2 separate regions of the Homo sapiens genome follow, and region 2 is linked to region 1. Evidence: fine-mapped expression QTL. A gene starts in region 1. The other region holds a variant in brackets. All regions are shown on one strand. Distances are between the middles of the regions.

Region 1 (4,403 bases):
GTACTTAGCTTGGTTTTGGACTTCAGTAAGTCCAGTAACTTAAGGTGACAGTGAGACCTTTAAGCAGAAATATCTAGCAAACAACTGATCAATCTCTGCTTGAACATGGAGAAGTCAGGGCTGGGGCTGTAGATCTAGAAATTATCATCAAGAAAGTCCCAGTTGAAGCTGCAGAAGTGCTTAGAATACAATAGCACAGGGTAAGTGACTAATTAAGATGCATCAACAATGTCTCCATGAATAAGTCTGTGGCTTTCAAATGGAAAATCAATCTGAAGGCCTTCCCTTGGAATGGAGGAGTTGGGGTGTTGGCCATACAGTACAGACTGGTCAAGCATGTTTGCAGACTATTATGTAAGGAGGCTGGGCCAGGAGAAAGTAGGAAGCTTTCTTTTAAGGGTATTAATCCTTCTCCTTTAAAGTCACAGCATATATAATTCATGGGTATTACCTGGGGGATGACAGCTCAGCCAGGCCTCCCCTTCATCCTTCCTACGAAGAAAGACAAAAGCCTAATTAGGCTTACCCAAAGTTGAATAGGATCCCATAGTTACAAGGGAAGAAAGAAGGTCATGTAACCTCCAGCTTGGTCATAGTACTTAGACATGAGATAGTCCAACCTCTCATCGAGTATAGATCATTCTAAGACAGACAAACTTTATTTGTTCAAGAAATATTTGTGGATTAACTATTTAATGAATAGATATCTGTTGGTTAAATTAATGCTCATCCATCAACAGTGAGCTCACTTTGAAAAATCAAGGTTATTTAATTATTTATCAGGATTATTGTAAACCAAGCCCTGTGCTAAGCACTTTCCATACACAATCATTAACCCTCACAATAACCAAACAAGATTCCTTTTATTATTTTAGCACCTGCCCAATCATCCAAATCCTGATCTCTTCACCCTAGCACTTTTAGGGTATAATGGAAAGGGTCTATGCATTTAAGACAGAAAGATCTAGGTTGACAGCAACCCTCTATCATTTGACGAGATGCATGATCTTGGGCAAATTAAGCCTTCTGATTCTGGTGCTGTATTTTCTCATAGGTAGCTAGTGGCACTTCATGTTATTGTTCTTTATTACTTATCACATTCTGTGTACTAGCAACTAGTCTGTATTTTAGCCCACCTAAATTAAGTAAGGTATAAATTTAGTAAGGTGTAAATTTCTTAAATGCAGAAGGCTATGTTTCATTCATCTTCACCATTGTTTCAATTTGAAAAACCCTTATTAGTAGTAGCAGTTGCCAAATATAGCACTGCTATATTCATCCTGAAGCCTAGAGAAATAACTGGAATAGTATAAGATCAATAAATGTTAGATGAATGAATAGTTTGCTGTGTATTCCTAATTAAGACGTCAGCTTTTCTTCTTTTTTGAGATGAGTATCGCTCTGTCACCCAGGCTGGAGTGCAGTGGTGCAATCTCGGCTCACTGCAACCTCCACCTCCTGGGTTCAACCGATTCTCCTGCCTCAGCCTCCCGAGTAGCTGGGATTATAGGCGCCCACCACCAAGCCCGACTAATTTCTGTATTTTTAGTAGAGACGGAGTTTCACCATGTTGGTCAGGCTGGTCTCGAACTTCTGACCTCAACTGATCCACCAATCTCAGTTTTCCAAAGTGCTGGGATTACAGGCATGAGCCACTGCGCCTGGCCTGGATGTCAGCTTCTTGAAGAGCAGGAACCATCACTTATATTTAGAGTATACATCTGAGCTCCACCAAGCATCCAGTATGGGGCCTGGACACAGTATTAGTTTCCTTAATAGTATCGTCCAGTATGCCTAATATAGCATTAGGGGCCTAGGAGAATACAAAGGTTCCATCACATACACAAAGTGGTGGTGAGTACAGAGACTTCTGGAAGTAACTGACGACTAATCAATATTTGCTAAATGACTGCTTGGCCAAAAGCCTTCCTGCCTCCCAGTATCCCTGTCTTTCTCCAACTCACTGATACTAGTTCTGACGCGGGGATCACACAGCTCATGTGCTCCCTTGGCCTAGGGATAGCTTTTCAGAGAATGACCATACGGGTTTGATACTTCTTTTTCCGGACCCTGTTCCCTCCATATCCCTCGACAATTGACGAAGTAACCCCTATTGATATCCTGGACCAGGCATGGCTCTCCTTGACGCAAAGCAACATCCACTACCCGCCTCCTCTGACTCTGTTCTGGGCCTGGATTCACCTGAGGGCTTGCGCCCAGTCGCTCTGAATCCTCAAAGGCGCCGCCATCTCGACCCCGCCTCCACCAGCCCACCTCTTCCGCCCCTTCCCGGAAGTGAGTCCCCGAGAAGCGTGCGGCGAGGACAGAGGTGGGCTCAACACCAAGAGGCCACCAATGAAAACGTGACTTTTTCACATTCCCCGCCCCTTCCGTGTGCACGCTCCCCACGAGGGGCTGGTTCCTGAAAGGATGTACAGAGGATCCCCAACCGCCTGCGAAACCCAAGCCGCCGCGTAGGAGCGTGCGTTCGGGCCCTCTTCTCCCACCTGTTCGGTGAGCATCGCGTACCGCGTTCTTCAGGAGGCGTTGCGGGCACAACGGGGCTGCGATCAGCGGCCGCGCGCGCGCATGCGTCCTCAAAGTTCAAAGTCCTCGATACGCCTGAGGCGCCTCAGGCCTCGTGGCTGCCAGCATTTTTCTGCTTTAAGATCCTTTCCATGACTTCCTTGTTTAGGCCAGCCTCCACGATCCAGCTGCCAACCATCTAGCCTACCCTGATCTCTGAGCAGGGGTCGTCGTCATTTTACTCCAGAGGAGACTGAAGCCAAAAGGTGGTGAGAGGAGAGTACAGCAGCATTTACTGAGTCCTATAGTAGCCCAAGCGCTTTTCATTCGTTATATTAATCTTCATTCTAATTGTGCGAATTAAATATTATTAATGGGAAAACTAAAATGAAAAAGATTACATAGTAAGGCGTAGTGCTGGGATTTGAACACGGATCTCTTGGTTTAGGATCAAGGCACTTTCTATTCCACTGTTCTTTCTCTAAATTATTTGCTCCTGGCCCTATTTAAAGAGTTAACAGTGTATTTAGGAAGAGAAAACTATCATTTATTGAACTCTTTAGACATACCAGCCTCCTTACAAACCTTACCTTTTTTTTTTTCTTTTTTTTTTTTTTTGAGACAGGGTCTCCCGCTGTAACCCAGGCTGGAATGCAGTGGCGTGATCACGGCTCACAGTGTTGCCCAGGCTGGGCGCAAACCATCCTCCCGCCTCAGCCTCCCAGTGTTGGGATTACAGGCGTGAGCCATGGCACCCGGCTTCATCTCTGTGCTTCCAGAGAGGTTATTAAATGATGTGTCCAAGGGCACCAAATGAGGCAGTGACAAAGCTAGGTCCAAGTCTGTTTCAAAGCCCATTTTCTCCCTCTTGCTTAAGTTATACCGCCTCCAAGGCAAATGAGTTGTGTAAAGTGCCTAACTCCCTCTTGTGATTCCCCATTGCCCTCAGAATAAAAAGTCTTAAACTCCCTACTATGTCCTACAAAGCCTTGTGATGATCACTTACTTATATCGCCAGTTTAATATTGTCTTATTCTCACACTGTATTCTCCCATCACTGAACTTTTTTTTTTTTTTGCTCTCATGTGTCAGATTCTATCTCAACCACCTGCTCTTCCATTGACCAAAAATAGTTTTCCCATCTCTGGCTAACTTCTGTTCCATCTGTCAAGTTTCAGCTTGGAAATCACTTCCTCTAGGAAGCCTTCCCTGCCTATTCCTGCCCTTGTCTGGATTAGGCATCCCTCCACTGTGGTCCCAGTCTTTGCTATCTGTACACTGTGTAGTAAACTGCCCTGTTTCCTTGTCTAGGTTGTAAACTCCATGAAGCCAGGAACTTAACTGACTTAGACAGTCTTGAATCCTCAGCACTAGCATAGTGCCTGGTACATGATAGGTACTTAATCATTTGTTGAGTGAATGAGAGACACAGTTAAGGCAATAAGGAGTCCTAGTTGCTTTACAGCCCATCATGGTGAAATTTTTGCAAAGGCTGAAGTCATTTCTCTTCAAACCTTAAGTTCCTTCTGTATGCTGCTTTCTGCTGAGTGTTCTGATGCAGACGGGCAAGACAGTTTGGGCAAATAAATACACCTCACATTTTTGTATAGTTTACAAAGCCATCTCACCTTATAGACCCAGAGGCCAGGTTTCTGCATACTGTATGCTACAGCCACAGTGAACTCTTTCCATCCTTCCCATGTGTCAAAACCTACCCATATTTGGGCACTCTTTCACTTTGTTTGTTTGTTTGTTTTGGAGATGGAGTCTCACTCTGTCACCCAGGCTGGAGTGCAGTGGCACGATCTTTGGCTCACTACAACCTCCGCCCCTTGGGTTAAAGCGATTCTCCTGCCTGAGCCTCCCGAGTAGCTGGG
Region 2 (4,403 bases), 170 kb after region 1:
GATGGGGTTTTATCATGTTGGCCAGGCTGGTCTTGAACTCTGACCTCAAATGATCCACCCGCCTTGGCCTCCCAAAGTGCTGGGATTACAGGTGTGAGCCACCACACCCGGCTAGATCTTAACTGTTTTTAGTAAACATGTTGGTGATGATGTTGGATATTGTTATTTCAAAATGATTGTCTGTATTCTGCATAAAATAAATGAATACTTTGCTTAATGATTGAGAACTGGCATTTTGGACACGGGAGATGGAAATACAGATATAAGATTAATAAAGTTAAATATAAAAAATATAAGCATGGGGGCCGGGCGCGGTGGCTCACGCCTGTAATCCCAGCACTTTGGGAGGCCAAGGCGGGTGGATCACGAGGTCCGGAGATCGAGACCATCCTGGCTAACACGGTGAAACCCCGTCTCTGCTAAAAAAAAAAAAACACAAAAAATTAGCCGGGTGTGGTGGCGGGAGCCTGTAATCCCAGCTACTCCGGAGGTTGAGGCGGGAGAATGGCGTGAACCTGGGAGGTGGAGCTTGCAGTGAGCCGAGATCGTGCCACTTCACTCCAGTCTGGGCGACAGAGCAAGACTCCGTCTCAAAAAAAAAAAAAAATATATATATATGTGTGTGTGTGTGTATGTATATATATGTGTATATATATGTATATATGTGTGTGTATATATATGTATATATGTATGTATATGTGTATATATGTATATATGTATATATATGTGTATATATGTATATATATGCATGAATTCATTACATTTTTTAGCATTTGAAAATTTTTAATATTTTCTAGCTCTGTCTACTGAAAAGATTTAAACCAGGAGGAATGAGCCCACATTACCACATGTAAATACGGTTTCTTTCCAAAGGAACCAGGGCTACTTGAAGAAGTGACAAATTAGGCATCTGGGCCAGAAAATGTAAACAGTGGGGCTGGAACATGTCATACCATAAATCAAAGAAGTTATTAAAGACCATTGAGGTTATGTCAGATTCAGGAGAGCCAACTCAAAGAAGCTCTACTGGTCAAACTGTAGGAAAACTTGAAAATCAGTAATTACTATAAAACATGTTTAAATCCACGAGTCATAATAATAATAGTAATAATAATAATAATAATAATAATATACTTAAGGAGAAAACTCATTGGTCCCCTTTGGAAGATGCCAGAGACTGACTCGAGCATTTATCCTCCTTTCCTCTCCCTCCCTCCGTCACTCCCTCCCTCCTTGTTCTAAGTACCTCAGGATAACCAAATAATTGAGAAAGTTTCTTTCTAAAGAAGTATTTAATTTGCTATAAAGGACATTGGAATAACTGGCAGTAAAGGACATTATTGGGATAATTGACAAGAATAAAACCTATAGATTCAATGATGGTATGATGTTGATGTTAATTCCCAGATTTAATAATTGTACTGTGGTTATATAAGAGAATGTCCTTGTTTTTAGGAAATTCACACTGCTGAAGTATTTAGGGCTAAAGGTCTGCAGATTGGCGGTTTACTCTCAAACAGTTTTTTAAAAGTGTTTCAGAAAATTTATATACACAGAGAGAATGAGAAGATAACACAAGCAAATGTAAAATCTTAACAGTTGGAGTGTTATGTAAGAGAATGTTCTTGTTTTTAGGGAGTGGAGAATTCTAGAATAATAATTTCTTGTAGGCAAGAAGGGAGTGGGATCTAATACATAGATGTAAGTTTTGAGAATAAGGACAACTCTTTCATAGTAATAGGACTAGAGGTAGGATATAAGGGCACACTTGCAAGTAAATGGAAGCTTGTGGAAATTCTCTTCCATTGCCCATTTTCTGTGTTGTAGGAAGCAGGGTTTGTCAGCTGATAGTTTAAATCTAGCTAATTAGAACATTTGTATATTTATGGAATACTTATCTGCCAGCTTAAGCATTAGGAATACCAATATAAATGACATAATCTTGCACTTGAGATCTCACAATTTGAGACATAGTGCTAATTGTAATGCATCACAAAATACCCTGTAAAGGTAATATTAAAGTATTAATATTTTGTATCTAGAGGCTTTACCATACATGTCTTTGACTCACTT[ACTTC/C]ACTTACAGAAATCCACAAAATCGGCTGGGCACGGTGGCTCACGCCTCTAATCCCAGCACTTTGGTAGGCTGAGATGGGTGGATCACCTGAGGTCAGGAGTTTGAGACCAGCCTGGCCAACATGGTGAAACTCTGTCTCTACTAAAAATACAAAAATTATTCAGGTGTGGTGGTGGGCGCCTATAATCCCAGCTGCTCAGGAGGCTGAGGCAGGAGAATCGCTTGAACCCAGGTGTTGGAGGTTGCAGTGAGCTGAGATCGCGCCATTGCACTCCAGCCTGGGTGACAAGAGCAAAACTGTCTCAAAAAAAAGAAAACCACAAAATCTAACCTAAGGAAATGATTTGCAGTGCACAAAATATTAAGCACAGATATTTAGGGCAACAATTTTCATAGTAGTGTAAAATTGGAAAGCAACTTGCATTCTAATAGTTTGGGAATGGTTATATAAATTATAGGAGCAAATTGACAGAAATTGTTTAGCCATAAAAATTGTTTTACACAAAGATTTGAATTTTAAGGCTAAAAGCCTGTGGTCTGATATTAAGGGAAAGAGGCAAGCTATTAAGCGTTTTTTGTTTTGTTTTGTTTTTAGCTTTTTCTTTTTTTGAGACAGGTTCTGTTGCCCAGACTGGAGTGCAGTGATGTGGTGGCCTAATAATGGCCTGCTGCAGCCTCAACATTCCTGGGCTCGAGCATCCTCAAGCTATTAAGTTTGTAAAAGTAAAAAAATTACAGGATGAGCCCAGTCAAGTGAAAGCAAATCAGTAACAAAAAAAAGTCTTTAAAAAAATGTTAAGTATACACACACAGAAACACACAAATTTCAAGAGTGTGGCAGATTAATGAATTTTTAAACTAATGTGACCTGTATAACCAGTCCTTATATCAAGGAAAGTTATTTTCAGAGCTTTCTTTATAATCTTTATAATACTGCCTCATGTCTCAAAAGTAAGAAGTTTGTTTGTTTCTTTACAGGCAAGTGTCAATTGAGGAGGGAGAGAGGAAAGCCAAAGAGCTGAATGTTATGTTTATTGAAACTAGTGCAAAAGCTGGATACAATGTAAAGCAGGTAAGTTGAGTTGAGGTTACCAAATTGAAAAAATATGAAATAATTGTGTGAGTATTCTATTCTCTGGTGTATAGGTTTCCTTCCACCTGGCAAGAGCAGGCCTTACAAACTAGCAGTATATTTTCAAACAGTGAAAAATATAAATGTGGCATAGTTTTTGGAAAAAGAGAAAAGACTTGCAAACTTCAGATCGTGGATAGAACTACTGCAAAGTGGTAAATCTACCATATTGTCACTACATTCCTACTACATTGCTTTAAAGGTAAATTTTCTTTTCTTTTTTTTTTTTTTTTTCTTTTTTGAGATGGAGTTTCGCTCTTGTTGCCGAGGCTTGAATGCAATGGCGTGATCTCGGCTCACTGCAACCTCCACCTCCTGGGTTCAAGCAGCTCTCCTGCCTCAGCCTCTCGGGTAGCTGGGATTACTGGCATGCGCCACCATGCCCAGCTAATTTTGTATTTTTAGTAGAGATGGGGTTTTTTTCATGTTGGTCAGGCTGGTCTCAAACTCCTGACCTCAGGTGATCCGCCTGCCTTGGCCTCCCAAAGTGCTGGGACAGGTGTGAGCCACCATGCCCGGCCGGTAAATTTTATTTCAGAGTTTGATGCCAAGACTGAGATAAATGAAAGCAAGTATTTACTGTCAGTAATGGTGTTCCACTTCTTGTTGTAAAAGTAAATTCTGGTTACTTTATCCTTAATAAAATGCTGGTGTTTGAACAGTGTTTACAACAGGTCTTTTTGGGGGAGGGCAGGAAAATATAGGGAGATGTCACATTATCAAGCCATTTTCTACAAGATAGGTCAGCCAGAGACTCACATGCTTAACTCTTCAAGGCTGTATATCATGTAGGGTAGTGGTCCCAGATTTATAAGATTTATGGACCAATAATTTTTTTTTTTTTTTGAGATGGAGTCTTGCTCTGTCGCCCAGGCTGGAGTGCAGTGGCGCGATCTCGGCTCACTGCAAGCTTCACCTCCCAGGTTCACGCCATTCTCCTACCTCAGCCTCCCGAGTAGCTGGGACTACAGGTGCCTGCATCACGCCTGGCTAATGTCTTGTATTTTTAGTAGAGACGGGGTTTCACTGTGTTAGCCAGGATGGTCTCAATCTCCTGACCTCGTGATCTGCCTGCCTCAGCCTCCCAAAGTGCTGGGATTACAGGTGTGAGCCACCACGCCCGGCCTAGACCAATAATTTTCTTAATTGAGGGTGATCAACAGAGGGTAACAGTAACATCATTTAAATAGTTAA

What was found. PIP is the estimated chance that this variant, and not a neighbour inherited with it, causes the effect. A credible set is the group of variants that fine-mapping cannot tell apart.
Region 2: its variant is the best candidate, but not a certain one, in a credible set for the expression of COA4 in whole blood (TOPMed, PIP 0.73).

Annotation. Positions count from the first base shown.
Region 1 is chr11:73,874,868-73,879,270 of GRCh38, reverse strand. It overlaps COA4 (cytochrome c oxidase assembly factor 4 homolog), which reads left to right and starts at 2,425. Exons shown (of 2, transcript NM_016565.3): 1 at 2,425-2,514. PAAF1 (proteasomal ATPase associated factor 1) reads right to left here and starts at 2,272. Exons shown (of 12, transcript NM_025155.3): 1 at 2,203-2,272; 2 at 452-492. The coding sequence starts at 2,249. RefSeq lists enhancers at 2,035-2,104, 2,125-2,174.
Region 2 is chr11:73,706,166-73,710,568 of GRCh38, reverse strand. RAB6A (RAB6A, member RAS oncogene family) reads left to right here. Exons shown (of 8, transcript NM_198896.2): 6 at 3,056-3,149. Among named protein-coding and RNA genes, the nearest start is that of RAB6A, 53 kb to the left of the region's middle. The variant ACTTC/C (reference allele first, on the strand shown) is at 2,074.